Linked DNA regions of Homo sapiens. The protein of the gene in region 1 interacts with the protein of each later gene in a pairwise test. Each region holds a gene or a part of one and is shown on either strand. Other genes may lie near its edges. The genes, in order: GPX7, TCF25, GET3 and NCALD.

What was found.
Region 2: the proteins of GPX7 (region 1) and TCF25 interact in binary tests that used the Homo sapiens proteins (3 or more experiments, as listed by UniProt).
Region 3: the proteins of GPX7 (region 1) and GET3 interact in binary tests that used the Homo sapiens proteins (3 or more experiments, as listed by UniProt).
Region 4: the proteins of GPX7 (region 1) and NCALD interact in binary tests that used the Homo sapiens proteins (3 or more experiments, as listed by UniProt).

Annotation. Positions count from the first base shown.
Region 1 is NC_000001.11:52,598,074-52,605,652, reverse strand, and holds the start of GPX7 (glutathione peroxidase 7 precursor), read right to left. Parts: upstream 3,283-7,579; 5' UTR 3,244-3,282; coding exon 3,106-3,243; exon of another isoform or gene 2,088-3,105; coding exon of another isoform or gene 2,058-2,087; intron 2,034-2,057; exon of another isoform or gene 1,524-2,033; coding exon of another isoform or gene 1,515-1,523; intron 1-1,514. UniProt on the Homo sapiens protein: It protects esophageal epithelia from hydrogen peroxide-induced oxidative stress. It suppresses acidic bile acid-induced reactive oxygen species (ROS) and protects against oxidative DNA damage and double-strand breaks.
Region 2 is NC_000016.10:89,868,910-89,876,674, reverse strand, and holds the start of TCF25 (ribosome quality control complex subunit TCF25), read right to left. Parts: upstream 3,084-7,765; 5' UTR 3,008-3,083; coding exon 2,816-3,007; intron 1-2,815. Other genes in the region: SPIRE2 (protein spire homolog 2), read right to left, coding at 6,403-6,625, 6,993-7,108. UniProt on the Homo sapiens protein: Component of the ribosome quality control complex (RQC), a ribosome-associated complex that mediates ubiquitination and extraction of incompletely synthesized nascent chains for proteasomal degradation.
Region 3 is NC_000019.10:12,740,071-12,747,496, reverse strand, and holds part of GET3 (ATPase GET3), read right to left. Parts: intron 2,121-7,426; coding exon 1,972-2,120; intron 1,889-1,971; coding exon 1,738-1,888; intron 301-1,737; coding exon 193-300; intron 103-192; coding exon 1-102.
Region 4 is NC_000008.11:101,717,966-101,725,391, forward strand, and holds part of NCALD (neurocalcin-delta), read right to left. Parts: intron 3,387-7,426; exon of another isoform or gene 3,248-3,386; intron 1,684-3,247; 5' UTR 1,665-1,683; coding exon 1,287-1,664; intron 1-1,286. UniProt on the Homo sapiens protein: May be involved in the calcium-dependent regulation of rhodopsin phosphorylation. Binds three calcium ions.

The DNA.
Region 1 (7,579 bases):
ATTTATTAAAGCCTTTAGGCAATAAATACAAAGCTGGCTAATGGAACTTGATTATAAGACTTTGATTAGAATTTTGGCTCAAATGCTATGTTTTTAGCTTCTAGGTATATATTATTAATGGATTTAAAACCCTAGCCGGTGCCTAGGCAGCCTAGCCCTATCCTCCATAATTGACATTTGGGTCAGATAATTCTTTGTTGTCGGGGGGATGTCCTGTTTATTTATTATCAGATGTTTGGCAGCATCCCTGGCCTCTACCCACTAGATGCCCAGTCTTGACAATCAACAATGTCTCCAGACATTGCCAATTGTGCCCTAAAGGGAATAATCACTCCTAGTTGAGAACTACTGGGCTAGATGATTGAACCACTGAGCTGTACCTCCTGTACCCTACCTCCACCAGGTGAGAAAGGACCCATGCCTGGGGCCACTGGCTATTAGAACAACCTCCTCAATTTGAGGTCAGCATACACCATACTGTGCCTGGAATGGTGAGAAACTGGGACTGTTAACTCCCTTCCTCAGTTAGGGTTCTTCCTTTTTTTCCCCCTGCTGGATCCCTGGGCAATGAGAACATTAAAGCTTTTTTTTTTTTTTTTTTTTTTTTAAAGACAGAGTCTTGCTCTGTTACCAAGGCTGGAGTGCAGTGGCGCGATCTTGGCTCACTGCAACCTCCACCTCCCGGGTTCAAGCAATTCTCCTGCCTCAGCCTCCTGAGTAGCTGGGATTACAGGCACACGCCACCATGCCCAGCTAATTTTTGTATTTTTTAAGTACAGACGGAGTTTCACCATGTTGGCCAGGCTAGCCTCGAACTCCTCACCTTGTGATCCACCCGCCTCAGCCTCCTGAAGTGCTGGGATTACAGGCGTGAGCCACTGCGTCCGGCCAAAGCTTGCTTATTTTTAACTCACAACTTGCATGTCTGCCCGCTCTTTTGGAAGGGGGAAAATCTGGCTTCTAGTTCCATCCCTGAAACCAAAAAGCTTGGTCCTTAGAAACCAAAACACAGACAGACACACCCAAGTACACACAGTTAATTTACATATGTACATATACAAGCACAGACACAGACTCAGATTTGTACACAGAAGAAGTAAACCATTCACAAAGGCACACACTACACATAACCCCACACATTCCCAAGTGGTCACCCATTCATCCATACTGGTCTAAATGACTATGGTCCCAATTAGCCTGAGGGCATCAACCATGTCAATCTTGCTCATGACTATGTCATCAGAGCTGGACCCAGTGTCAGACATGTAGTAGGAGCCAGTAAATGTTTGCAGGTGAAGGAATGAGCATATTGCCCAAGCAGCAAGCCTAGCCTGGGTTAACTCAGCACCAATTACAGCTTTTCTGGACTCCCTGTTCCCTGGTTTACTGCTGAACTTGGCAACTAAGAGCATAGACTCTGGAGCTGGACTGTCTGGGTTCAAATTCTTACTGTCTTACTAGCTGTGTGACCTTGTTCTATTTTTGTCTTAGCACTTACTACTACTAGGAATTACCTCGTGCATTTCTCAGTTCCTTGTTTATTGTCTTTCTTCTCCTTACCCCATGTAAGCTCCATTTAGTGGAAATGTATCTGTTTTGTTCACCACTGTATCCCCAGGGCCTGACCTAGTATCTAGTTAGTATACAGTAGGTGTTCAATAATGAACAACGAATTAATAAGTAGCAGAGCTGGTCAGACGCTAAACCTGGGGCTCTCTGGTGAGCTGCCCTAGAGAGAACAGGAGGCCTGAATTGGAGCGGGCCCTGTTCTTGGTTCTTTGCCCAGAGTTCTAAATGAAGTTCCTGCTGGGATCCACCAAACACAGGTGCAAAGCACTCTACAGTTTACTAAGTGCATCCACGCCTTCATCTGATTTGAAACTCACGACACTCTGGGGGACAATCAAGCAGGGATTACTGTCCCCAAGACTCCCAGCATAATCGAAAATTTCAAGGCTTATAGAGTACTGGTCTTCACTAAAGATGGTGTTGCTCCCAGGAGAAAAATGTTGACATCTATTTTTGTGTGGTTCATCCAAAACTGGACGCTGGCCCACCTGTTCATTAGATTTCAACTCCCCAGCCATTTCACACCAGTCCCCAGGTCCATCCTGAAGAGGTCCACTCTGGGAGTTCTTCACTGCACATAATGTGACATGCAGGCCTCTCAATGTAGTGTTCAAGGTCCCGCCTGCTCCCTTGCCAGTCGTTTCAGCCTCATCTTCCACCACTCGTAGCCTCCAGCTTTAGACTCTTTGAAGCACAACAGCTGGAACTCCTGGCCCCGCGCCCCCCCACCCCCTTCTTGCTGTTTGCTTCTTAGTCTTGCTAAAATCCACTCGTATTCAAAGACTCAACCCAGATACCCTTCCTCTCCGAAGTCTTCTCTGAGCTTAGATTCCCTCTTGGTAATGAGGGGGCAATTAGCCTGGATGACTCTTATGTGTGCCCCTGAGCTGCCATCTAAGGACTTGGCCTAGAGAGGACCCCGGATGTGGCGGTGGGGTTCTCTTCCAGGCCCCGTCTTTCTAGTGTAGTGTGACCTTGTGCGAATGCCTGCCCTCTCTGGGCCTTTGTGCCCTCTCCCAGGGATGATCCGTGTGAGGTCTCCGTGCATCTGAAATAACTCTCTCTCTGCCCTGCACATTGATCTCCACAGTGTTCTTCACTGGACTCCGAATCAGCCACTCCCCGTTCCAGATGCAGAAAATGAGGACGGGAGAGGGAAAGGCCGCACGATGCTACGGTTACTTTTTTCACCCGTGAATGGCAAAGGCTGGGCAGTGGTGCCCGGCCTCCCGGCGAAGGTCTGGACCCCGCTGCCCAAAGGTGCCGGTAGCGAAGTGGGCGCCGACTGCGAGCGCTTCGGGTTCCTCCGCGCCAAGGCCGTGCCACGTAGCCGCGGGCCGGGCCGGGCCGGGCGCGGGATGGGGGCGCCGCGCCAGAGGTCACGGCCGAGCGGGGCGGGGGCCGGGGTTTGGCGGCCGCGCGGCTGGAGCGTCCTCGGAGCCACACCGCGCGGGGGACCGGGCTGCGGGGCGTCCCCAGCAGGCCCCGCCAGGGCGAGGCCGGGCCCAGCGGCGCCGCCAGACCCCGCGCACTCACCGATCCGCGGTACTTCTCCAGCGACACCAGTTTGCCCCGGATGTTGACCGCCTTGAAGTCGTAGAAGTCCTGCTCCTGCTGCGCGCAGGCCGCAGCCCACAGGAGCAGCCACGCCGCTGCCACCGTCGCCGCCACCATGGCTTGTTCCGGAGGTGGCGGCGTCGCGAGGGCAAAGACGGGGCGGGGGGATCTAGCGCGGGGGGCGGGAGGAGGCGGCTCTGGCGCCGCTCGGCCCGCAAGGCAGGACGCGCCGCGTTCTCGTTCCCTCCGCAGGCGGTGGATGTCCGGCTCTGGACCTCAGTTTCACCGTCTGTCCTGAGGCAGCGCACCCCTGCCCCGGACCCCAGAGCCAGGGTTTCAGGATTCTGTCCCCTGAGACCGGAGTTCGTTTCAGTGAGGCTCCCTCTTGTCCCAGGAAACAGCGACTTGGCAGGGACAGGGAGGCAAAAATCTGAGAGCTCAGCTTCTCATTAGTGCAGCGGCCTTAGGCTGGCCTGGTCACGCCCCCACTCCGACCTCAGTTTCTCCACATGTTAAGTGGAGCTAGTCGGTATAGGATGGAAGTAATAGAAAAACGGATGCGAAACACTTTAACAGTTGAATGGTGCCTGCAAACTTCAGGTGAATGAATGCATGTTCCCTGAAAGTGATGGCTGGGAGAAGAAGAGAGGACCGTGGGCCTGTTGCAGGTTAGGTTCCTGGAAGCAGATTCTGAGATGGAGATTGGAGTGCAGGATGTTTATGAGGGAGCACCCTTGGGATCAACAGGCGTGGGAAGGATGGGAGGGAACAGGAGTGGCACAGGGGGAAAGTAGTGAGCTCCATGCAGGCCCCAAGACAGTTTTAGCTGACTCGACAGGGACTCTAGAGCTAGAGTAGCCCATCAGATGAGCTAAGATGGCCAGGTCATCCTGCCTTTATCAGTCCTTGGATGTGGGGCCACCTGGCAAGTGGGGCAACAAGGGCCAAGATGGCCCTGTCTGTGGAGAAGCTGACATTAAAGGCTTTGTGCTAACAGCACTCCTAGCAGCTGGTGTCTGTCCTAAGTCCTCAGTGATGGGGGATCTGGGCAGCACATCACAATGTCTCCCCCTGCTCAGAAAACCCCTGTTGAGCCCATGAAATGTCAAACATGGAGCTGGATCCTGTACTCACAGGCTGTGAGTTTTTTCTGGAAACTCACAGACTGGTGTGAGAGAAACCAGGTAAACTGCAGATTTTATGTAATGTGGTAAGGGCTAAGCACTCCTGTGGTCATCAACAAAAACTTCCTGAGCACCTTTTCTATGCCAAGTTTTGCTTTAGGTGATTCTTAGGCAGGGATGAACAGGAGGGCATTATCTCTATCCAGGGAGACACAGGAATTAAATAATTTATAAATAGCTCTAAAATTACTGTTGTGGTGAGTACCACCTAAACTAGCCTGGAGGGCCATGGAGGGCTTTCCAGAAAAAGGGAGATTTGAGCTGAGCTCTGAAGAATGAGGAGAAATTGGTCAGGATGAAGCAACATACAAGTGCAAAGGTCCTGGGGGGAAAGGAACATGGTGCATTGAGTAACAAAGAAGCCTCATTTGGTTGGAACAGAGAGGACAAAGGATGAGAGGGAAAGGTGGAGAGGCAGGAGGGAGTGAGATCACACAGAGCCTAGTAGGCCACAGTAGGGACTGTGGTCTTTAAACCAAGAAATGAAGGTTCTTTTTAGCAGGGAGGTATCACAATGAGTCTTTTGTTGTAGAAAGATCTCTTTCGACAGGGCCCGGTGGCTCACACCTGTAATCCCAATACTTTGGGAAGCCAAGACTGGAGGATTGCTTGAGGCCAGGCGTTCAAGACCAGCCTGGGCAACCTAGCAAGAACTGTCTCTTCAAAAAATTAAAAAATTAGGCCAGGCGCGATGGCTTACGCCTGTAATCCCAGCACTTTGGGAGGCCTAGGCAGGCAGATCGCAAGGTCAGGAGAACGAGACCATCCTGGTTAATGCAGTGAAACCCCATCTCTACTAAAAATACAAAAAATTAGCCAGGTGTGGTGGCACACGCCTGTAGTCCCAGCTACTTGGGAGGCTGAGGCAGGAGAATCACTTGAACCCGGGAGGCAGAGGTTGCAGTGAGCAGAGATTGTGCCACTGTACTCCAGCCTGGGTGATAGAGCGAGACTCCATCTAAAAAAATAAAAATTAAAAATTAGCCTCGTGTGGTAGCATGTGCCTGTGGTTCTAGCTATTTAGGAGGCTGAGGCAGGAGGATTGCTTGAGCCCAGGAGTTCAAGGTTGCAGTGAGCTATGATCATACCACTGCACTCCAACCTGGGTGACACAGACACTATCTCAAAAAAAAAATCCTTCTGGCTGTTCTGTGGAGTTGATAGGAAAGGGCAAGAGCAGATGTGGTCTAGATGTTGGAGTTGACGTAGCTCCAGGGCTACCTCCTAGAGACCCAGAGGCAGTTGCTACCTAGCCTGAGCAGCCAGGCAAGGCCTTCTGGAGGTGTGAGGTGATACTGGAGTTATATCTTGAAAGAGGAATGGGAATTCTCTAGGAGGGTCAGGGCAACAACGTCAGACTGAAAGAGCAGTATCTATGACAGCACAGAGTCAGAGAAGTGCTTGGCTGTTTGAGGTGAGAAGGGGTGTGGGGCAGATGAGATTGGAAGGGTCATCAGGATAGAGAAGGGCCTTGAGTGCCAAGTCACTCTCTAGAGTGTGGCAAGCAAAGGTTTTGAAGCTGGCCACAAGATCATATAGTTACTAGGACTCGAACCCAGGCCTTCAGGTGTAGACCATGGGATTTTTCTGCACCACCAAGGTGGCCTCACTCTTCAGGAGAAGGCAATATTATCAGGAGAGGTGGAGAGCAGAGGAAACGGCGCTCCAGGCAAGGGCCAAGGCATACATAAGGTGCCCCTGCCCATCCTGCTCCTTCTTCCCCATCTCTTTTGGGAGCCTTAAGCCTGTGATGGGTCCCACAGCTATTAAATGGTCTCTTCTCTCTCTGCCTTCTGGAACCATTGGGCTCTCTTCCTGCCACCTGTCCCTTTCACTCAGCCCCTTCTTGAGTGTCCCAGTAACCAGGAGTTCTCAAATTCTACTTCATATAACTTGGAGTGTTGCAAGTTTGGCCAAGCTATTTCCTGTTAAAATCCAGATAGATGAGCCGGGCGAGGTGGCTCACATGTTTATACAAAATTAGCCGAGCGTGGTGGTGCATGCCTGTAATTCCAGCTACTCAGGAGGCTGAGGCAGGAGAATCACTTGAACCCAGGAGGCGGCGGTTGCGGTGAGCCAAGATCATGCCATTGCAGTCCAGCCTGGGCAACAAGAGTGAAACTCCGTCTCAAAAAAAAAAAAAAAAATCCAGATAGATGGGCATTTCTACTAAACAGGGGGAAAAAAGTTAATAGTTAAATATTTCTCAGCTGTAACTTTCTTTCCTGGGCACTTTTCTCCTTTCCTATTTATGCTTCAAAACCCAGCTCATATGTGAAAAAGATACTTGGTCATGCATGTTTATAGCAACACAATTTGTAATTGCAAAAATGTGGAACCAACTGAAATACCCGTCAATCAACGAGTGGATAAAGAAACTGTGGCATACTCCATACGATGGAATACTACTCAGCCATAAAAAGGAATGAATTAGTCAAACCAATCCCCTGAGCCCTATGCAAATCAGACACCGCCTATTCCAGCCTCCTCATGTAACTGGCTGGTTTCTGCTGTACTCGCGGTTTCCTCTCTCGGCTTTGGATCACCCCCTCCCTCTGTCTCTGTACAGGGGGAGCTTCTTTCTTCTTCCTTGCCTGTTGGGAGAGAGAAAGAATAAAAACTAAAACTAGTCATACAAAACCTACAGTACTTTACTTTTTTTTTTTTGAGACGGCATCTCACTCTGTCGCTCAGGCTGGAGTGCAGTGGCACAATCTCAGCTCACTGCAACCTCTGCCTCCCGGGTTCAAGTGATTCTGTGCCTCCGCCTTCTGAGTACCTGGGATTACAGGCGGCCACCACCACGCACAGCTAAATTCTTTTGGTATTTTTAGTAGAGACGGGGTTTCATCATATTGGCTAGGCTGGTCTCAAACTCCTGGCCTCAAGTGATCCTTCTGCCTCGGCCTCCCAAACTGCTGGGATTACAGACGTGAGCCACCGCAACCGGCCAACATGTAGTACTTTACATGGCATTAAGCGGGGGAGAGGGTAGAGTAGTATGGTATAGAGTAAGGAGGGATTGTAACTTTAATTTGAATGATCAGGAAGCCTCACTGAGAAAATGGTATTTGGGCAAAGACCTAAAGAATGTCAGAGAGGAAAGTAGAAGAGCAGTCTCGGTAGAGGAAGCAGCAAGTACAAGGGCCTGGAGGCAGGAGCAGGCACGATGTGTTTGCTGAACAGCAAAGAGTCTAGTGTGGCTGGAGCAGAGTGAGCAAGGGGAAGAGTAACAGAAGATGACATCAGAGAGGTAAGGGATGGGTACA
Region 2 (7,765 bases), on another chromosome or scaffold:
GAATACAGGCATGTGCCACCACGCCTGGCCCAATTTTTGTATTCTTAGTAGAGATGGGGTTTCACCATGTTGGCCAGGCTGCTCTCGAACTCCTGACCTCAGGTGATCTGCCCACCTCCCAAAGTACTGGGAGCTGCAATTCCAGCACTTTGGGAGGCCAAGGCGGAAGGATCTCTTGAGCCCAGGAGTTTAAGACCAACCTAGGCAACATAAAGAGATCTTGTCTCTAAATAAATAAAATTTTTTAAAAAGAGAAACACCATGTCTCTCACCAATGCATTCACATTCATAACCATTTAGTCGTAACTGGCTGTTTACTGTCTCCCATACTTCTGTTTATTAAGAGCTATTTAACAGAATGCCAATAAACATTTTGATTATATTATTTCCAAATATGAGTTTTAAGAGCAAAAAAGTATGGAATGCTTAAATTAAGACTGATGTGTGCCACTGGATAAAATTCTCTGAAATTCCTAAGAACACAGCACGATAAGCAGTCATTCATCCATGGAGGCTGTTAGTGTTACTGACACTCAAACTCACTCCAGAAAGTCCACAAGGGTTTGTGTGGTTTCTGACCTTACAGACTCTTACTCTGTCAACTCATGAACCACACTTTTTCCAAATTCCCACCAACACAAATATAAATACCAAAAAGATTAAATATTTAAATGGGAAAAAAAAAGCATTAAAAGAACAAGCTGAGCATGGTAGGGTATGCTGTAGTCCCAGCTGCTCAGGAGGCTGAGGCAGGAGGATAACCTGAACCCAGGAGTTCAAGACCAGCAACCAGCCTGGGCAACACCGTGAGACCCTGTCTGTAACCAAAAAAAAAAAAAAAAAAAAAAAAAAAAGCCAGGCGCAGTGGCTCACGCCTGTAATCCCAGCACTTTGGGAGGCCGAGGCAGGCGGATCACGAGGTCAGGAGATCGAGACCATCCTGGCTAACATGGTGAAACCCCATCTCTACTAAAAATACAAAAAATTAGCCAGGCGTGGTGGCGGGCGCCTGTGTTCCCAGCTACTTGGGAGGCTGAGGCAGGAGAATGGCGTGAACCCAGGAGGCGGAGCTTGCAGTGAGCCGAGATCATGCCACTGCACTCCAGCCTGGGCGACAGAGCGAGACTCCATCTCAAAAAAAAAAAAAAAAAAAAAAAAAAACTCACGTCAGGGAATATCTATGTGAAGACACTCTAGAGAGATGGATGTGTAACAATGAGAAAAGTGGCTCCAGTATCTTTCAGCACGCAGAAATTAAAGAAGTTAAAGAACAAACACAAACCGAGAAAATACGTTAGAGACAATCGATAGCAAGCTTCCACGAGCAAAAAGACTGTCCAAACCCCCTATAAAAAGGCAAAGATATAAACAGGTTGTCACAAAGAGAAATATAAATGGTCAACGAATACATAGCTAGGTGCTGCATTTCACTACCAAAGAAGTGTAAAATAAAATAATGTGATATCATTTTTCACAAATTACATTGACAAAAATTTAAAAAGACTTACGGGGCCAAGCACAGTGGCTCATGCCTCTAATGCCAACACTCTGAGAGGCCAAGGTGAGAGGACTATTTGAGCCCAGGAGTTCAAGGTTGCAGTGAGCTAGGATTGTGCCAATGCACTCCAGCCTGGGCAACAGAGCAAGATTCCATCTCAAAACAAAAAGCTTTCAGTAACTGCTGTGAATCTAGCAAATTACTGAACCTTGACGGGGGTCTTGGGGACCACTAAAGGTGGACTTGATGCGAGAAGGGCAGTCAACCAAGCATGGTGACTCACGCCTGTAGTCCCAGCACTTTGTGAGGCTGAGGTGGACAGATTGTTTGAGCGCAGAAGTTCTAGACCAGCCTGGGCAACAAGGCGAAAACTCTTCTCTACAAAAAAGAAAAAAAAAAAAAATTAGCCGGGCGTGGTGACATCCACCTGTAGTCCTAGATACTCAGGAGGCTGAGGTGGGAGGATCGCAGAGCCCGCAGAGGCAGAGTTACAGACGGAGGCCAGGGCTTAGGAGAAAACGTCACAGGACCGCATGAGCAAACCATACAGTCAAACTGTTACTTCCCTGTGCCAGAAACGAGCTGCCGGAGATGCAGCAAAGAGTAAGACTAATCCGCTGGGTTAGGCTGATGGGGATGCGCGAAGAGCAAGGCCCTGGGTTAGGCAGAGTTGTTGTGAGGATTAAAGCAGAATGCTCGCAGAGGCCTGGCAAGTCCTCAACCCTGGAACCGAGAGAAGGCCCCTCTAGACTCGAGAAAGGGAAGCCCCACCCGACTCCTGCCCCTACGCCGTGGCCCCACCCCCACGGTGGCCCCAGGCCTCATTTAACCCCGCCCACGCCATCGCCTCGCCACCCCCCCGTCTTTAGCCACGCCCTTTAGCGTCACGGCCCCACGACAGCCACGTGGCCGCAGGCCCATTTAATCCCGCCCACGTCGTGGCCCGGCCCCGCGGACGTTGGCCACGCCCTTGGCATCAAGGCCCCGCACCCTCCACAACCCGGACCCCGCTTAACCCCGCCCATTCGGTCGCCCCGCCCCGACAGCACGGCCCCGCCCCATCCCTTAGCCCCGCCCACCTCACCGGGGTTAGAACCCAGTCTAACTCCGCGGCCCGCCGTCTTCACCCCACGCCACCGCCCACCCGCGTCGCCCTGGCCCCGACGCACGGCCCCGCCCTCCCCACTGCGGCTGGGACCCACGTCACCCTTCCCACCCCTGGCATCACAACCCCGCTCCCCGACCCGGCTGGACGCTCGCCCCGCCCCACAACGTCAAGGGCCACCCCACCCCCACCCGGGCCGCCGCGCTCCTCACCAGCTCGAAGCGGTTGTTGACTCGGACGCCCTCCTTCCCTGCGCCCCCGGGACGCCGGACACCAAGCTCCCGCTTGGGCCCTTCTTCTTCCGCGTCATCGTCATCACGGAGATCGAAATGCAAGGCGCCGGGCCCGAGGGGCTCCTGGCCGCGCTGTTCCCCCCTCAGCCTCCGGAGGGCCCGGCGCGACATAGGACCGAACGACCACGACGTCTGGAGAGAGGGAGAAGGAAGCGCAGAAAACTCGGCTGTCGGCGCGCCTGCGCACTCTTCGCGCGGGGTCGGGGGCGGGGGAGCTGGCTGCGCGCCTGCGCACTCTTGGCGCGAGGGGTGGGGGCAGGACCTGGCTGCGGCGCCTGCGCGTCGCGGCTCTCCGGAACTTTCCCGCTTCAGCGGCGGCGTCTGGGCGGGCTCCGGGGGGTCCGGGCCAGGTCTCTGGAGAGCTGGGTGTCTGCGCGCCGTGCGCACCGGGCATGGAGAGGTGCCCCGCGGGGATGACGGGCTTCGATTCGGGGTAACGGGCGCGCAGCCGGCGACAGTCGGCCCTGCCCGGCCTTGCCCATCCATGTGGCCCGGAACCCGCAGCCGCGTTCTGCCCGCCGGGGCCTGTCCCCGCACCGTGCCTGCAGCATTTCAGCTGCGTCCCGGACGTTGCTAGTTGGTCCTTTTCGTGTCAGGGTGTCATTCGAGTGATCTAGCCGTCGATGCCCGCCTCTGCCCTGGAGCCGCCGCCCCTCGAGCAGCATTGAGTGACGCGGCCCTTACTGCCCGCCCGAGGCCTCTTTAGGGACAGTGGTTCTGACAGTTCTAGGACAGGCCGCCCGCGTTTGTCACGATCTAAGGGCCGGGCGCGGTGCTCACGCTTGTAATCCCAGCACTTTGGGAGGCCAAGGTGGGCGAATCACCTGAGGTCGGGAATTCGAGACCAGGTTGGGCAACACGGTGAAACTCCCTCTACTAAAAATACAAAAATTAGCTGGGCGTGGCTGCGCACGCCTGTAATCCCAGCTACTCGGGAGGCTGAGGCTGCAGTGAGCCGAGATCGCGCCACTGCACTCCAGCCTGGGCGACAGAGCCAGACCCTGTCTCAAAAAAATGAAAAAAATAAAGTAGATGAGGCTGAGACAGTGCTGGGTTCAGTGGGCGGAGGGCACAGCTTCCTGTGCCTGGGGTTGGGGACATGGGGACAGGAGGGCATAGAGAAGACAGGTGCCAGCAGCCTCCTGCCCGACTTACTGCGGCTTCATGAGCACAAGCAGCAGCCCTGGTGAGCCGGCCTGGCCCCTCCCAGGATGGGTTAGGGTTTTATTTTATTTTGTGAGATGAGGTCTTGCTCTGTTGCCCAGGCTGGAGTGCAGTGGCGCAATCTCGGCTCACTGCAACCTCCATCTCCCAGGCTCAAGCACTTCTCCTGTCTCAGCCTCCCGAGTAGCTGGGACTACAGGCATGTGCCACCATGCCCGGCTAATTTTTGTACTCAGTAGAGATGGGGTTTCACCATGTTGGCCAGGCTGGTCTCGAACTCCTGACCTCAAGTGATCTGCCCACCTCACCCTCCAAAAGTGCTGGGATTACAGGTGTGAGCCACTGCACCTGCCGTGGTTTAGGGTTTTAACGTGGGCTTTCATTTCCAAGTGTTCCTGTATGAATTACAACCCAGTCTCCCCATGATAGGGAGTGTGAGTCCCCGTAGAACCAGAACAACCGTCGTCCTTACCAAGCACTACACATTAGCTTATTGCTGGCTGTGTGACCGGAGGAGTTCCCTGACCCTCTCTGTGCCTGTTTTCTTATTTTTAAACAGGAATAAAAATACAGGCCAGAGAGTCCGTGAAATGCTTACACGCATGCTAGAAGCTGGCTGTTTTTACTGGGGGCTCTAATTTTGTGTGTTTGGATTTCCTGGACCCCAGCTGACAGGAGTATTTTCTCCCGCAGGCCCATCAGTTACAAGTCCTGTCCCTTCTGACCTCCAGGCCCCACGGCTAGCATTACAGCCTGGAGTCAAAGTTCTGGGTGAGCTGTGTATCTTTGGCCAAATTCTTTGACCTCGTTGAGCCTCAGTTCCCTCATCTGTAAGGTAAGATGACGGCAGAACGTCACGGAGGAGCAGGGCAGGGCCCCGTTAACAGGCTGAGCCGGGCGCAGGTGAGCAGACAGCACTCGGCACAGGGCCTGTCTAGAGCCTGCAGTCACACCTCCTGCCCCTGTGGATCCTCTCCCTGGAGAACGAGAATACGGATCTGGGAAATGAGACCAAAGTACCCCCCAGGCCAGCAGGTGTGGCCAGAGGAGCTGATGGGCAGTAGTCTGTGCCGTCCGCATGCAGCCCTGACCATGGTGGCCAGGACCACGAAGCTGGTAGAGGCAGCCAGGGCTGCGTGGACAGAGCAGGCCTGGAGCCCTTGCCTGGTGGGCACCTGACTCTAAGCCAGGAGGCCTTTCCTCGTCCTGGAAGGCAGGTGGCCCCTCAAGCCCAGCTTCAACCTTGGGAGAACATGCCATGCTGGGTGAATCCTCAGCGCACATCCCAGACAGAAGACTGTGAGACCTCCTTTATTAGGCCAAGAGTGGCCATGTGCACAGATTTACAGAGCTGCTCCTCCCTGTGCCAGGACCGCCCAGCATCTTCAGGAGCCTCTGGGCCAGGGGCGAGTGAGGACAGCACCAGAATGTGGTAGGGCCAGGAGAGGCAGGACACATGTGGTTTGGACCCCAGGGAAAGGGAAAGGGCAAGGGCAGGGAGCAGCTTGGCACGGACCTTTTTTTTTTTCGAGACAGAGTCTCGCTCTGTCGCCCAGGCTGGAGTGCAGTGGTGCAATCTCGGCTCACTGCAACCTACACCTCCCGGGTTCAAGCGATTCTCCTGCCTCAGCCTCCCCTGTAGCTGGGATTACAGGTTCCTGCCACTATACCTGGCTAATTTTTGCATTTTCAGTAGAGACAACATTTCATCATGTTGGCCAGGCTGGTCTCAAACTCCTGACCTCAGGTGATCCTCCCTCCTCGGCCTCCCAAAGTGCTGGAATTACAGGCCTGAACCACCACGCCTGGCCAGACCTTTCAAACAGGTGGGGGTGCCTCCCAGGAGGACCCTGCCTACTCAGAGACTTCCCAGATGCCTCTGCTGCCTGAGTCCCCACAAAGGGAGAGCAGAGGCAAGCAGGGCACTCTGGTCCAGCTGGGAGCCAAGATACCCTGTCCCCACCTAGACGTCCACTGGGGAAGGGAAACTGCCGTTCGCATTCCTGGGGACGGAGAAGAGCATGGGAACATGGGATGCAGTCTGTGCCAGGATCTAGAACCTTCTGCTTTCTCTCTTCAGTGAGAAAACCCACCCTGTTCCCTCCCCTTCCTCCCTGGCAAGGAATCCTGAGAAGAAACAGCCTCCCCCAGGGAGGGTTTTGAAGTGCGCCTGAACCCAAATGAGCTCTGGGGCCAGGAAACAGTGTATATAAATATATAGACTGTGTGTATATATTATAAATGTATCTATATATGTATATATGTACATGCACAGCTCAGAGCGTCCTAGCCTGATACAGGGCCTGCCTGGTGCCTCCTGGAGGCCTGGCCACCTGGGGCTGTCACTTGAAGTCAAGAGTCCTGGTGTTAGGGATGTAGAGGGATTGGGTCTGGCGACTGCGTCGTGGCGTAGTGTTGAGGACGTCCACGCTCTTGCGGCTGGAACGCACCACGTCTGCCACAAAGCTGGTGCACTCACTGCAGACATCCTTCAGGACACAGCCGTGGGAGTAGATGTGGGGGAACGCCTCCTCCACGCTCTGCCACTGTGGCCCTTGCAGAGACCTGGGAAGTGGGAGAGGGCACTCAGGGAGAGGAGCCAGCCAGGGTGCCACACCCCCCTCCCTGCTTGTGCATGCCACAGCCCCCTCCTGGCTGCCTTTCACCCTAGGCCTCCCCTTGGCCCTCAGGCAACAAACACAGCTAGCAGTGTTCATCTCAGCAGACTGTTCCCTGACCACCCAAGTCCAGTTTCCATCTCATACTGCTCAGCCTCCCAGAGCCCTACACAACGATCCGTCTCTGCCTTGCATTTCCATTTCCTTGGGGTGTCCTAGCAAACAGACAAAGCCAGCCCCCTCCACCCCAGCTCCCAAGTTCCTCTTCACGCCCGACCACCACAGTGACATCAGCAGCAAGGCGAAGAACGCACTGAAAGATGTCTCTTCTCTGGATTGGCGCGGTTTTGGCAGCTGATACCCTCTGAGGACTCTCAAAGCCCAGTGTGTAGACAGGGATGTGTCCAAATTTCTTAGAAGGCATCTTCATCTGCAGCACAGAGGGAGGAGGTATGAACCAGGCACCACCAGAGACATTCAGGTACACTCAGTGCTAGGGGACCTCCCTCCCCAGTCTGGGACCTGCGTGGCAGCCAGGGCTTCCTGGAGAATATTCTCTGTCCCTGTGCTCTCCGATGTCTCCTCTGTGCCTTTTGGCTGAAGACTGGCACGGGGTTCCTGCTTGCTGCACATCTGGACAGGGGCTTCTTAGAGCGCAAGAACCGTCCCTTTTTATACCATGCGGGACCTGCCACGTTTCCTGCTCATCTGGACAGGGGCTCCTTAGAGGGCAAGAACTTTCCCTTTTTATACTATACGGGACCTGCCACCTTACCCTGCACATAATCAACATTTAACATGGATGAGGTGGAAGTTTTTCCATTGCCAAGTGGCAGGATGTAGAGTAAGATTTAAAAATAGTGGTAGTAAGAGTACTCCTTAAGCAGAGTTTTGCTTCTGAACTGAGGCCTGAGGGGTAACATATATATATATATATATATATTTTTTTTTTTTTTTTTTTTTTTAAGACACAGATCTTGCTCTATTGCCCAGGCTGGAGTACAGAGGCACAGCCATACTCACTGCAGCCTTGAATTTGCTGGGCTCAAGAGATCCTCCCACCTCAGCCTCCCAAAGTGCAGGAACT
Region 3 (7,426 bases), on another chromosome or scaffold:
GTGTGTGTCAATCTTGCACTTGGCCAGCTCCTGGATCAGCCTCTCTGTCTCATACAGGGACAGGAACTCAGCAATGCATACGCAGATGAAAGTTGTCTGCTCCTACAGGGCACGAGAGAGGACAGTGAGGGGCGGGGTCTGCCCCTGTCCTCAGCCCCCGGGCCTCTCACCGCCAGCCAGACCACCACTCACAGGGTCCTTGAACTGTTCGCTGACTGAGCGGATGACGGGCAGCGTCTCCTCCAGCTTGGAGGCCAGCTGGTCTGCGTTCATGTCCCCCAGGCCCAGCATGTTGCACATCTGCAGGGGGGATGTGGGAGGGCTCATAGCTTACCTGCGGCGACCTCCTGGGTTGGGGGTTCACTAAACACCCGAGGGATGACTCCTGATACCTCCCAGTGGTTAAAGGCTCAGGCCCATAAGCAGATTCCTGGGGTTGGTCAAATACTAGCTTTTCCATTTCTTTCTTTCTTTTTTTTTTTTTTTTGAAATGGAGTCTCACTCTGTTGCCCAGGCTGGAGTACAATGGCGTGATTTTGGCTCACTGCAACCGCCGCCTCCTGGGTTCAAGCGATTCTCCTGCCTCAGCCTCTTGAGTAGCTGGGATTACAGGCGCGCACCACCATGCCCGGCTAATTTTTGTATTTTTAGTACTGGTGGGGTTTCACCATTTTGGCCAGGCTGGTCTTGAACTCCTGACCTCAGGCAATCCACCTGCCTCGGCCTTGCGAAGTCCTAGGATTACAGGCATGAGCCACTGCGGCCGGCCTCAGCTTTGCCATTTTTAGGGAACCATAGCTAAGGGGCTTGACCCTCCTGGAGCCTCAGTTTCCCCATCTCTAAACTTTACCTCCCAGATCTGTTGTACCAGATGAGCTGAAGCATATAATGTGCTGAGAATAGTGTCTGGCACACAGTAAGTGCTCAGTGTTACCACCTGAGGCACAGGTCCCCACAGGGGACACGCACACACCCACACGTGCACATACACCATGGTGGGTGGTGCTGGTGGTGTGCAGCACTGTGGGGGCTTTAGGGTTGTCATCGTAATAATAACCCATGGGGGCTGGGCACAGTGGCTCATGCCTGTAATCCCAGCACTCTGGGAGGTCGAAGTGGGTGTACTGCTTGAGGCCAGGAGTTCAAGACCAGCCTGGGCAACATGGCAAAACCCTATCTCTACAAAAAGTACAAAAATTAGCTGGGCATGGTGGTACATGTCTGTAGTCCCAGCTACTTGGGAGGTAGAGGCACGAGAATCACTTGAACCCACGAGGTGGAGGTTGCAATGAGCCAAGATCGCACCACTGCACTCCAGCCTGGGTGACAGAGCGAGACTCCGTCTCGAATAATAATAATAATAACCCATGGGGCACTCTCATGATCTCCATTTGCAAGACAAGGAAGGTGAGGCCCAGAGAGGTGAAGTGATTTGCTTGAGGTCACACAGCAGTTGGGTCACATGGTGAGTGTAGAGGGTTTGAAGGCAGGTTGCCTGGTTCTGGAATGTGCTTTCTGGCTCTGTCTAGGGTATTTAGCGGGCAGGGGCAGGGACACTGAGTCCTGCCTGTGGGGGAGGAAAGACAGCTCCGTCCCATCCCCTCCAGGGAGAAGTCCAGAGTGAGAAGGGGTGGGAAGGAAAGGGAATTGTTAGTGCGCATTTGAGGGTCTGGGGGCCCGGGCCTACTCCCACTCCCGGCTGCCTGGATGGTGCAGGTGGGGGCCCCCGCCGCCTGCCTGTGAGATGAAAGGGCTGATCTGGTTCTTGATCTGCATAAGCCGGCCCAGGCCCCGCTCCACGATGGTGGGGAAGTTGAGCAGCCTCAGGGTGTGGCCCGTGGGTGCCGTGTCAAATACCACCACCGAGAAGTTCATGCCCTTCACCAGCCTGAGGGGAGACAGGGGTCAGGCCCTCTGTGTCCGCTCTTCCCCTTCCCCAGGCAGCCCCCACCCCTGCTGGCTGGGCCTGACCTCATGACCTCGGCATAGCTCATGGCCTCATCGATGCCGGGAAATGCGCTCATGGCCTCCTGCATCATCTTCTTGCCCATGCTCAGCATGTTGTCCTCCTCGAAGAACTCGTCAGGCAGCTCCGCCACGCCCAGGCTGGGGTCAATCTCCTGGGGGCCAAAGGGATGAGACTGAGGTTGCTGCTACTGCTGGGGGAGCCTTCCCACCTGGGCACAGGGCCAGGGGGAGCCTTCCTACCCGGGCACAGGGCCAGAGGGAGCCTGTGGTGGGCTGTGACCACAGGCATTTCATTAGGTCACGGCTGGGGGGACCCTGAGGTAGTACTTAGGGTTTTGTATGGTTGCATAAAGGGTCAAAAACAAGGGGAAAATTGCAAGCTGTGCCCAGGGCCCTCAAAGGGAAGCTGAAACCCACTGCGGGCCATTTACACTGCTACTCCCCACTTGCAACCTGCCACTTGCAACCCCAGATACTCCCATGACTGGGCCATGACCTCTTCCGGATCATCATCCCTCCACTGAGAGACTCCCTGACCACCCTAAGTAACAGCACAGATCCACCGACACCCCTGCCCTGCCTTCCTTTCTCCTTAAGGTTTAGCCCTTAGGAGCTGGGCAGGATAGCTCACGCCTGTAGTCCCAGGTACTCAGGAGAATGAGATGGGAGGATCGCTTGAGCCCAGGAGTTGGACACCAGCCTGGGCAATATAGCAAGACCTATCTGAAAAAAAAATTAGCCCTTCCTCACATCCCTCATGATTCCCTTATCATGTTTATCATCTGTCTCCATAGCAGGAATGTCTGCCCCTCAGGGGCAGGGGTTTTACCATCTAGTTCACTGCTGTGTCCTTAGCGCTTAGCATGAACAGTGCCTGGCACAGAGGTCGTCAGCACATATGGGGAATCCAGCCAGGCGCGGTACCTCATGCCTGTAATTCCAGCCCTTTGGGAAGCGGAGGCGGGCAGATCACCTGAGGTCGGGAGCTTGAGGCCAGCCTGGCCAACATGGTGAAACCCCGTCTCTACTAAAAATACAAAAATTAGCCATGCATAGTGGCGGGTGCCTATAATCCCAGCTACTCTGGAGGTTGAGGCAGGGGAATCGCTTGAACCCGGGAGGCAGAGGTTACAGTGAGCCGAGATCACGCCATTACACTCCAGCCTGGGTGACAGAGGGAGACTCTGTCTCAAAAAACAAACAACAAAACAAAACACAAACATGTATGTAGAATCTATGAAGGGATGGCCATGGCTGGGGTCCCTGGCCAGTCTCAGACTCAATGCCTCCCTCTTTTTTTTTTTTTTTTCCCGAGATGGAGTTTTGATCTTGTTGCCTAGGCTGGAGTGCAGTGGCGCGATCTCAGCTCATCACAACCTCCACCTTCTGGGTTCAAGCAATTCTCCTGCCTCAGCCTCCCGAGTAGCTGAGACTATAGGCATGCCCCACCATGCCTGGCTAATTTTTTTTTTTTTTTTTTTTTTTGAGATGGAGTCTTGGCCGGGCGTGGTGGCTCACGCCTGTAATCCCAGCACTTTGGGAGGCCGAGGCAGGCAGATCACCTGAGGTTAGGAGATCGAGACCATCCTGGCTAACACGGTGAAACCCCGTCTCTACTAAAAATACAAAAAATTAGCCGGGCGAGGTGGCGGGTGCCTGTAGTCCCAGCTACTTGGGAGGCTGAGGCAGGAGAATGGCATGAACCCCAGGGGGCGGAGCCTGCAGTGAGCTGAGATCACGCCACTGCACTCCAGCCTGGGCGACAGAGCGAGACTCCATCTCAAAAAAAAAAAAAAAAAAAAAAAAGAGATGGAGTCTCGCTCTGTCACCCAGGCTGGAGTGCAGTGAGTAGCTGGGACTACAGGCGCCCGCCACCACACCTGGCTAATTTTTTGTATTTTTAGTAGAGACGGGGTTTCACTGTGTTAGCCAGGATGGTGGCGATCTCCTGACCTCGTGATCCACCCACCTCGGCCTCCCAAAGTGCTGGGATTACAGGCACGAGCCATCACGCCTGGCCATGCCTGGCTAATTTTTGTAATTTTTTTTTTTTCTGAGATGGAGTTTCACTCTTGTTGTCTAGGCTGGACAATGGCGTGATCTTGGCTCACTGCAACCTCCGCCTCCAGGGTTCAAGTGATTCTCCTGCCTCAGCTTCCTGAGTAGCTGGGATTACAGGCATGCGCCACCACCCCAGCTAATTTTGTATTTTTAGTAGAGACGGGGCTTCTCTATGTTGGTCAGGCTGGTTTTCAACTCCCAACCTCAGGTGATCCACCCACCTCAGCCTCCCAAAATGCTGGGATTACAGGTATGAGCCACCATGCCCGGCCAATGCCTCCCTCTTTATCTTCCTCCTCTGTCACCTCTTCTTGGTAACTTCATGGGTCCCATGGGGAAGTACCCAACTCGCTGGCCTTAGGGGTCATTCCCTGTTGGGGAGCTTGCCCACTCATCACTGCACCCTCTTCTTATGCTTCATATATTTTAAGCTTCTTTGGACTACTTCATCCCCTCACCTGGCCCCTGTAAACTGTCAGTGTTCCTCTTGGCTGGCACCCTTATCCAGCCCAGCCTCCACAGGTTCCCTCTGCAAACACTCCCTTTCCCCTTGCTGTTGGCAAAATCCCCCACTCTGGTTACTTCCAGCTTTTTTTTTCTTTCTTTTAGAGATAGCGTCTTGGCCGGGCGCGGTAGCTCACACTTGTAATCCCAGTGTATTAGGAAGCCAAGCCAGGCAGATCATTTGAGGTCAGGAGATTGAAAACAGCCTGGCCAACATGTTGAAACCCCGTCTCTACTAAAAAAAAATACAGGCCAGGCGCGGTGGCTCACGCCTGTAATCCCAGCACTTTGGGAGGCCAAGGCGGGTGGATCACGAGGTCAGGAGATCGAGACCATCCTGGTTAACATGGTGAAACCCCGTCTCTACTAAAAATACTAAAAATTAGCCGGGCATGGTGGCATGCACCTGGAGTCCCAGCTACTCGGGAGGCTGAGGCAGGAGAATCACTTGAAATCGGGAGGAAGAGGTTGCAGTGAACCGAGATTGCGCCACTGCACTCCATCCTGGGCGACAGAATAAGACTCCGTCTCAAAACAAACAAAAAAAACCCCCCCAAAACAAAAATTAGCCGGATGTGGTGGCGGGCGCCTGTAATCACAGCTACTTGGGAGGCTGAGGCAGGAGAATCGCTTAAACTCAGGAGGTAGAGGTTGCAGTGAGCTGAGATCACACCACTGCACTCCAGCCTGGGTGACAGAGTGAAACTCAGTCTCAAAAAAAAAAAAAAAAAAGATACCATCTCATACATAGCTCATTGCAGCCTCAAACTCTTAGGCTCAAATGATCCTCCTGCCTCAACCTACCAACTTACTGGGACTATAGGCACACACCACCATGCCCAGCTAATTTTGTTTGTTTTTTGTAGAGAAAGGGTCTCCCTTTGTTGCCCAGGCTGGTCTTGAACTCCTGACCTCACGTGATCCTCTTGTCTCAGTCTCTGCAAGCACTGAAATGATAGGTATGGCTTTCTAGCTCTTTAGTATCACTGCACTTGAGGGCCGAACACTCCTGAAGAGTATTCCCATCTTGCTCCTCACCCTTTTGGAGACGGAGTCTCGCTCTGTCATCCAGGTTGGAGTACAGTGGCACAATCTCGACTCACTGTGACCTCCGCCTCCCAGGTTCAAGCAATTCTTTGCCTCAGCCTCCCGAGTATCTGGGATTACAGGCGCCCACCACCAGGCCCAACTAATTTTTTTTTTTTGAGATGGAGTGTCGCTCTGTATCCCAGGCTGGAGTGCAGTGGCATGATCTCGGCTCACTGCAACCTCCGTCTCCCAGGTTCAAGCAATTCTCCTGCCTCAGCCTCCCGTGTAACTGGGACTACAGGTGCCGGCCACCACGCAAGGCTAATTTTTGTATTTTTAGTAGAGACGGGGTTTCACCATATTGGTCAGGCTGGTCTCGAACTCCCGACCTCAGGTGATCTGCCCGCCTCAGCCTCCCAAAGTGCTGGGATTACAGGCGTGAGCCACCGTGCCTGGCTTATTTTTGTATTTTTTTTTTTGAGATGGAGTCTTGCTCTGTCACCCACGCTGGAGTGCAGTGGCGCGATCTAGGCTCACTGTAAGCTCCACCTCCCGCGTTCACGCCATTCTCCTGCCTCAGCCTCCCGAATAACTGGGATTAAAGGCACCCGCCATCACGCCCGGCTAACTTTTTGTATTTTTAGTAGAGATGGGGTTTCACCCTGTTAGCCAGGCTGGTCTCAATCTCCTGACTTTGTGATCCGCCCACCTCGGCCTCCCAGAGTGCTGGGATTACAGGCGTGAGCCACCATGCCCAGCTAATTTTTGTATTTTTAGTAGAGATGGAGTTCCACCATCTTGGCTAGGCTGGTCTTTAACTCCTGACCTTCTGATCCACCTGCCTCAGCCTCCCGAAGTGCTGGGATTACAGGCATGAGCCACCACGCCCGCCCTTGCTCCCCTCTTCTGAACACAAATCTCCAATGGGCACTTGATGATCCAGACAATTCTGGTTCCCCCTGCTACCTTAATAAGTGTTTATGTGGTATTTTCTCCCTCCTCAAACTTCTATCCCATTCACTGCTGAGACCCTTGCCTGTTCCTTGGTGAGAAAGAGAAGCCATTGGCTGCCAACACCCTCATCTCTGCCCGGGAAGTGCCCCAATTCCTCCTGTTTCCCTCCCAGTCCCTGACCCTGGCAGCGCCCAAGTTCTGGGTCTGTATGCTGGATGGAGCTCATCCCACCTGAGGACTGTCCTCTGCCAGCATCCTCACTCTGCAGCATCTCTTTATTTTATTTTATTTTTATTTATTATTTTTTGTTGAGTCTCGCTCCGTTGTTCAGGCTGTAAAGCAGTGGCGCGATCTCGGCTCACTGCAAGGTCCACTTCCCGCGTTCACGCCATTCTCCTGCCTCAGCCTCCGGAGTAGCTGGGACTACAGGTGCCCGCCACCATACCTGGCTAATTTTTTTGTATTTTTAGTAGAGATGAGGTTTCACCGTGTTAGCCAAGATGGTCTCAGTCTCTTGACCTTGTGATCTGCCCGCCTCAGCCTCCCAAAGTGCTGAGATTACAGATGTGAGCCACCGTGCCCGGCCTTTATTATTTTTTTGAGACAGAGTGTTGCTCTGTCGCCCAGGCTGGAGTGCAGTGGCGCGATCTCAGCTCACTGCAAGCTCCGCCTCCGGGGTTCACGCCACTCTCCTGCCTCAGCCTCCTGAGCAGCTGGGACTAAAGGCGCCTGCCACCATGCCCAGCTATTTTTTGTATTTTTAGTAGAGATGGGCTTTCACCGTGTTAGCCAGGAGGGTCTTGATCTCCTGACCTTGTGATCCACCCGCCTCGGTCTCCCACAGTGCTGGGATGACAGGAGTGAGCCACTGCGCCCAGCCAATTTTTTTTTTTTTTGAGACGTGAGAAAA
Region 4 (7,426 bases), on another chromosome or scaffold:
CTCTTTGATGATTTGGAAGTCACCTCGGGATGCTACAATATTTCCTTTCTGTGATCATGAATATTAATCATCAGGACTTAGCACTCTAGGAAACAGTTTAAGAAATTCAAGCTTTCCTTTGCAGTCTTCTTAAGAGCCATGAGTGTCTGAGCATTTTGTAAGGAATGGGTGTCCTTACAATTATAGCCTGGAAACACTGTGGGCCTGTGAATGGACTGAGGTGCTTTACAGTGAAGAAAATGCCTCTGGGAGGCTGAGGCACCTTCCTTTTATTTATTTCATTTCATTTCATTTATTTATTTATTTTTCCAAAGGACATTGCCCCAAAGCACCTTCCTTTTAATGATCACTTTTTACATTCCTTAGCAAATGTGGTGGAGTGAAGTCAACAGGGGCTGGGTGGGGGTCAATTCATACCTTCTGCATATTCTCTGCAATTCTCTCTGTCTCTTTCACAAACTGGATTCCACAGAAAAGGGACAGTGTCCATTTTCCACCCTATACTATTTGTTCAGGGCTGAGTTCTTAGCAGGGAGTGTTGATTTCATCAGCCCACGAAGACTAAATGTTCCTCCCTGCCTCAGCGTCTGCATCTTCATCAGTACTGATCACAAAACCATTGACCAACAGCAGCCAGGACGACTGGGCAAAAGTGTTGAGCAGGAGCTAACATGGTGCTGTAAACCAAAAAATAAAATTCTAAGGCTCCCCCAATCATCTGAATGAACCACTCCTCTCAGCCAAGGGCATTCTAAAGTTAATCTGAAAAACATGCTCAGGCCATGATGGAAGGGGTGTTGGAGATGCCTCATTATACCCTCCTTCCTCTTGGAATTCAGGAAAAGCCCACCAGCATTAACAGCAACACAGATTTTACATCTGATAAGAAACATTTCCAAGCTATTTTCTCTGAAGCCTGCTACTTAAGAGTCTTCATCTGTATGGTAAAACCTTGGTCTCCACAACCACTAATCATAATCTAGACATTCCTTTTTATTGATCGTAACTCTTACAACCAATTGCCAATCAGAACATTTTTAAATGCACCTATGACCCGGGAGTCCCACTAGTCTAGTTTTTCAAGAGATGCCGACCAGTGTGGATTTTTATGTGCAGTCTCCCCACACTGTAATGCAGTTTAAACTGTTCAAACATGCAGGGTGGGCCAAATGAAGTGTCCTGGTGACTCACCAGTTTGCAACCTCTGCACCGTGCTATACTGTGCACCTTCCAATTCTTACTTGAGATACATGCCCTTCTTTTTTTAAAGGGCTCAGTCTACGTACCTGCACGATCTCTAGCATCTCTGCCTTGCTGATATAGCCATTTCCGTCCAGGTCGTACATGCTGAAGGCCCATTTCAGCTTCTGCTCCAGCTTCCCCCTCGAAGTTACACTCAAGGCGATGATGAATTCTCTAAAGTCTATTGTCCCATCTCCATTTGCATCGAAGGTGCGGAAGACATGCTCTGCAAATTTGGAAGCATCCCCATAAGGGAAAAAGTTCCCATATATTTTCTTAAACTCTTCCATTGACAAATGTCCACTGGGGCAGTCTCTCAAGAAGCCTTTATACCATTCCTGGATCTCATGCTCTGTAAAGTCTGTGCTTTCCAGCAAGTCCTGCATGACCTCCGGGCGCAGCTTGCTGTTCTGTTTCCCCATCCTGGCGGCAAGAATTCAGCTGCAGATAGAAAAGAAAACATATATAATTTGTAGAGCTGCTCTTTAGGGCTGCATTTTATAATTTGTAATTGTTCCTTTGGGAAGAAGAAAAAACAAACAAATAAACTCTATACGAGTCCAGTAACACTGTCTAGGTTTTGCAACACACTGGTCAGCCAAACAAAATAATAGAAAGATAGGCCAGTAGAGGATGCACAGCAGAATTATCACTGACCAGAAAATGAATACTTCTTTTATACAGAGCCATCCTGAAAGCAAAAGGTTCAGAGAGAGCGTGAGGTAGAGGGAAATGAGGGCAGGGAGAGAGGGAGAATTAATTGCTTAGTTAATTTTGACATCAATTTGCCAGAGGTTGAGCTTAAATTTAAGAAGGCTGGGGTTCTGATAGCTAATCCAAGTATTAGCAGGGAAAATTAAAGGAAAGGAGGAAGAGAGAGACCAAGGGAAAGAATTTAGCAGGTTTTATTGCTAGAATATTTCCAAGTAAAATGCTGCTTGGATACCTTCTGAATATTATAAACACAGACATAAAGACAGAAAATGGAAGCAAACCTAATACCACCAAACTCCAACATGCTAGTTCAGGGATTTAAACGCATGGAATAAATCACTGACAATGTTGGGTTTTGATAGTAAAGATGATGCTTCATAAAGTTATGTCATGATTTTGGCTTATAAAATAGGTCAAATGTTTCTCTTTAAAATACAAATAACTTTGCATTTTCTTATCATGGCAGTAGCACATAGTTATAGTAACATAGTAAAAGAGTGATACATAGGGAAAAAAAGCAGTATCACTTCAAATACTAACCCTGAGAGATAACAATTGCTAGCATGTTGATATGTGTTCTTCCAGACTTTTCGTATGTGTACTTAAATATGCTGTTAATATATGTTTCCATAACAAGAATGCACACCTTTTTGTTACCTATTTTTAAACTTAACATGGTGTGGAAAATAAAGGTAACTTTTACTAGGTGGGGAAATACCTGTAATTATTATTGGCCTTGGGGGAAAATGCCACTTTTATATTTAAAGCTACTCCCTTAAAGAATGATTTATTTTCCTGAGTATAGAAAGCACCATTTCTTCAAAACCAAACTGAAGTTATTTTCTCAATGTATAAAAAGTGCTTCTCATTTATAGTGCTTTTGCACTAGAGACAAACTGCCTCAACATTTGGCTCTCAATTACCAGTGTGTTTCTGGTTCTGTGGATGCAGAATAAGATGTGGCCCCTTTTCCCTAAGGGCACCTAGCTGTGTGTGCAGGGGATGGTGGTAACAGTGAGGGGACGATATGACAGATATGCTACAGAATAGAGAGTGGATTTGGTGAAAGTACCTGGAAAAATGCCCAACCCAAAGGGGGCATGGGTGCTCTCAGGGAAGCTTTCTTGGAGGAGGTGATATACGAGATTAGTTCCTAATTCCCAAGGTATATGATTGAAGTGTGGTCAAGATAAACCCCATCTCAAAAAAAAGTTCTGCACTTGTATTTTGCATTTTTCGTCTATTGGAAAAAAAAAACCTGAAAGCAAAGCTTAGAAAAATTACAGAATACCTGAAAGACAGCATATCCCCATTTTAATGATTGCCAATCTTCTTTGCGATTTCACGCATTCTGGGGTTTGTTTCTGTCTCCCTCCTGCTACACAGTCAGGCCCTTGAGGCAGAGTCTCCACTGGGGTTGCTTCGTCTTCCTAGAGCCCACCGCAAATGGCATTTGGTGAATGAATGAATGAAGGCATGACTGAGAAAAATGACTGATAGGAAGGTAACTACAAAGTGGAAACATGGAATAATTTTGGAAAAGGAGGCTCACTGCCAGAAGCACGGGGGCTTGGTTTTCAGAACGCTATTTTACACACTGAAAACTATCTGGTGGTTAAGACTTGAGCTTAGGATCTCTTATATTGAATTTAGTGAGGCCTGTCTGGTGGCCTCACTAAAAATAAACTTCTACGGGGTGGTGTTTGTATCTCACGCTACTCAAACTGCTTGCATAATACTCATGGTTCAGATAATGACCAGCAATCCTCATTCATTGCCAAGTTTATTGATTTTGTTTTCTGACTTCTGCACTGGAGGCAAAACCTGCCCTGCTCATATGCAGGTGTCCAAAGTGATGGGAGTATGGGGCACTTCACCTATGAGTATGGCCAACTGCTGTAGGAAGGAACTTACTTTTTGGGTTCCCCCTGCCTTTTTTTTTTTTTTTAAGACTCTGTCACTCAGGCTGCAATGTGCTGGTGCAATCATGGCCCACTGCAGCCTCAAACTCTTGAGTTTAAGCAATCCTCCTGCCTCAGCCTCCCAAATAGCTGGTATTACAGGTGTGTACCACCATGCCTGGCTAAATTTTTTATTTTTTGTAGAGATGGGGGTCTCACTTTGTTGCCTAGCCTGGTCTCAGACTCCTGGGCTCATGCCGTCTTCCAAATTGCTGGGATTGCAGGCATGAGCCACCACGCTTGGCCCAGAGTTCCCTCTTTAGGCAGAATCAAGCAAACACCATTTTATGCAAAAGCAAAATTCAACTGCAACTCAAATGGAGAACAAATGGAATTTATAAATTGAACAGTCTAATATCTTTCACTTCCCTCTGTGTCCTTTTTTTCCCCTGGAGATTAAAAAAACAGAGTTACAGAGGCTGGTTTGTATTAGAATTGTAAAGCTGTCATTTAGTTGCTAAGTTGGCAATTTGCCTGAGGCCAGAATTCAGAAACATCCGGTAATACATAATACCCGGCTTTCTAGAGCTCTGAGACATTTTATGGAATTTACAAGTAATTTCAAGTTTTCCTTTTGGGGAGTTCTTTAGAATATATCTCTTTGGTGTGGTTTTCAATCAAATCACCATTTTTACAGTTTGTGCAAATTGCTGCTTGCCTGGCCTTGGGGAAAAATGCCATTCTGATATTTAAATCTACTCTCTTAAAGAATGATTTATGTCTCCAATGTATAAAGCACTGTTTCTTCACAACCAAACTTAAGTGCCTTTCCCAGTGTTTAAAAAGTGCTTCAAATTTATTAGCTGCTTTTGCACTAGAAACAAATTGCCTCAACATTTTAGCTAAGTCTCCCACTGAGACTGATCTGTGTGCAGCTATTTTTTGGTAAACAGTAATTAAACCACATTTACAAATTCATCAGCACAGAAAGGCCATAACACAAACAAGTCAGAAAAGCATGGAATAAGTTATTGGGAAAACGAGTGTTCACAATTAAGCCTAGAATTCATCTACAAACACTTTACTAAGTATGAGGACTAAACTTGAGACACCATCTGGACTTGGTTAGATGGTACAACACAAATCTTAGGGGACATTTGACAGAGTTTCATTCCTTAGGTGGTGAGGAGGAAGACAGAGGGAAGCCTGACAATACCTTTTTCTTTGGGAAGACAGGAATTTCTGCCCGTTTGAGTCGAAGGGATGGGGCAGGATAACATTAGGGAAATGCTACAGTAATTGGCAGTTAAGAGAAAAACAGTTTGGAGACAAAAATTGCACCTTGGGTCAAATCGTTTTCATAACTCCAGTCAGTCATTAAAACATTTATTTTGTGCTAGTTGAACATAGGTATGACAGGCTGTCTTTTAATAATTTTTTCTCTATTAAGTTAATTGCAGTATTATTTCACCGTCGCCATTTACATTTACTTTTCAGGTATCAGAGACTTATTGCTTTAAGTAGCAAATTACCTAAATTATGAACACATATTTTCAAAACACAAAATTGAGTTCAAAATTACCAAGTGTATATATACTGTGCAGAAGATTAAAAAAACTGAATTAGCATATATTTCTTTTCTAAAGTTCCTATGAAGAACTTACACTCTCCTATACTATCAATCCATTCTGTATATTTAAAATAACATTTGTTTTTATTTAAATAGTCAAAAATATAATGGCTTACACTTTTGTAAGACTAACCAATAAAAAAAGGACTCCAATTTTAAACCAATCCCTGAAACCAAAGCATCAAATATTTTAATATTAGTTCAATATTTCTACATAGCACAATAAGGTTTTCGCAAACAGTAACTCAAAGTTTTGTCTTTATTTTTAATCACGGGAATGGCCTACAATTCAGATAAGCCCACAAATTCATACTATCTTATAAACAGCAGTAACATTAATATAAACAATGTTAATTCAGTTATCTTAGGGGCCTTACCATATCATTAACCTATTTACAGAACAAAAATGTTTCTATGAAAGCTAATATATCTTTTCATGTTTGTTTGTTGTTAAGTGTGCTACAACAGAAATAGAGGTAGAATCACATTTTTCTTAAGTAACACTCTATAAGCCAATTCTACACAATTAAGGCATTTTTGCAATCTAAAATAGTAATGCTAATACTGCTTCAGTAAACTAGATTTACTAATTTAAGAATCCTAAGAAATTACGTATATGTGACTTTCAGACATCCATGTTAAACTACCAACTAATCAAGTTGTGGAACTGTTGTTCTCTGCTCACACTTAACATTCTTGAATGACCATAAAGTGGATAATGCTAAAATTTTTTCTAATCACAGTTTTTCTTATAAGTGACTATATGATATTTTACCATTTCTAAGAGGAAAAAATGAGACCTACTTGGCAGTCTGCATAGGCTGGTGGAAACTATAATCAGAGTGTAAAGACAAATCTTCAAGTGACTCAAAAAAGTTTGTAGATAACTCAGAATATAATCTGTTGGGAACTATGACACGTTGGCCTCCTGGATGTCCTGTTGGATGAACACTGGAAAAACACTAGAATAAAAATGCTTGGCTTCAAAGCCTGGCTCTATTGTTTACTAGCTGGTGGGTAATTCACTTAACATTTTGGTTCTCCTCAGTTTTCTCATCTGTAAAATGAGTTTAATGATATGAGTTCATCTCTTATTGATTCCATGTGAGAGTTAAATGAGACAGTCAAACATGTAAAGCTCTGGCATTCAGTCAGGGCCAGACGCTGCCATAAATGAAAATGATGCCTTATCCTAGATGATCTTTCATGTGACATCCTATTAAACTTTCACAACCTGTGTGATAGGCAGGCAGGCTTTCTCTATCTCATAAGCAAATAAATGAAAACTCAGAGAGGCTAGGTGACTTATTCCAGGTGACACTGCTTGTGAATGAGAGAGCCTAACTGTGAGTGTGGGCTGCTGCTTGGTTGCCCAGTGGTTTTAGCCCTATGCTCTACTAGCCCCAAGGACAAAGCATTTATAGAGATTAAGACAACAATCCATAAAAAGTCAGAAAGAAGTAGTGAAGAAGAAGGAGACAACCTCCTTTTGGAACTCATTTATTCCACAAACAGGCACTAAGTGTCTACTGGGGGTGAGGCACTCCTAGGCACTGCGGAATTCAGCAGGGAGCAAACAGGCAAAGCCCCTGTTTTCATGGTGATGTGGACAGGAGGCAGGGAAATACTGGGTAGAAGAGGGTGGTTCCCTGGCAAAGGCCCCACCCTCAAGCCTGGAAACCATGACCCTAAATAAGAACAGTTATCCCTGTTTTCCCACCCAAATGTTACATTTTTGGCCTGCACTGCTGCCCATCCTGTGCCTATATAAACCCCAGATCTCAGCTGGCAGAGAGACAAGCGGCTGAACATCAAGGGAGAAGAAGCAACTGAGCATCACAGACTGTGGATAGACATGGCTTAACTTCAGACAGCATGACTTCAGAGAGAAGCCTGGCCAGAGATGGTGGGCTCCGAGGAAAGATCACCTTCTTCCTGC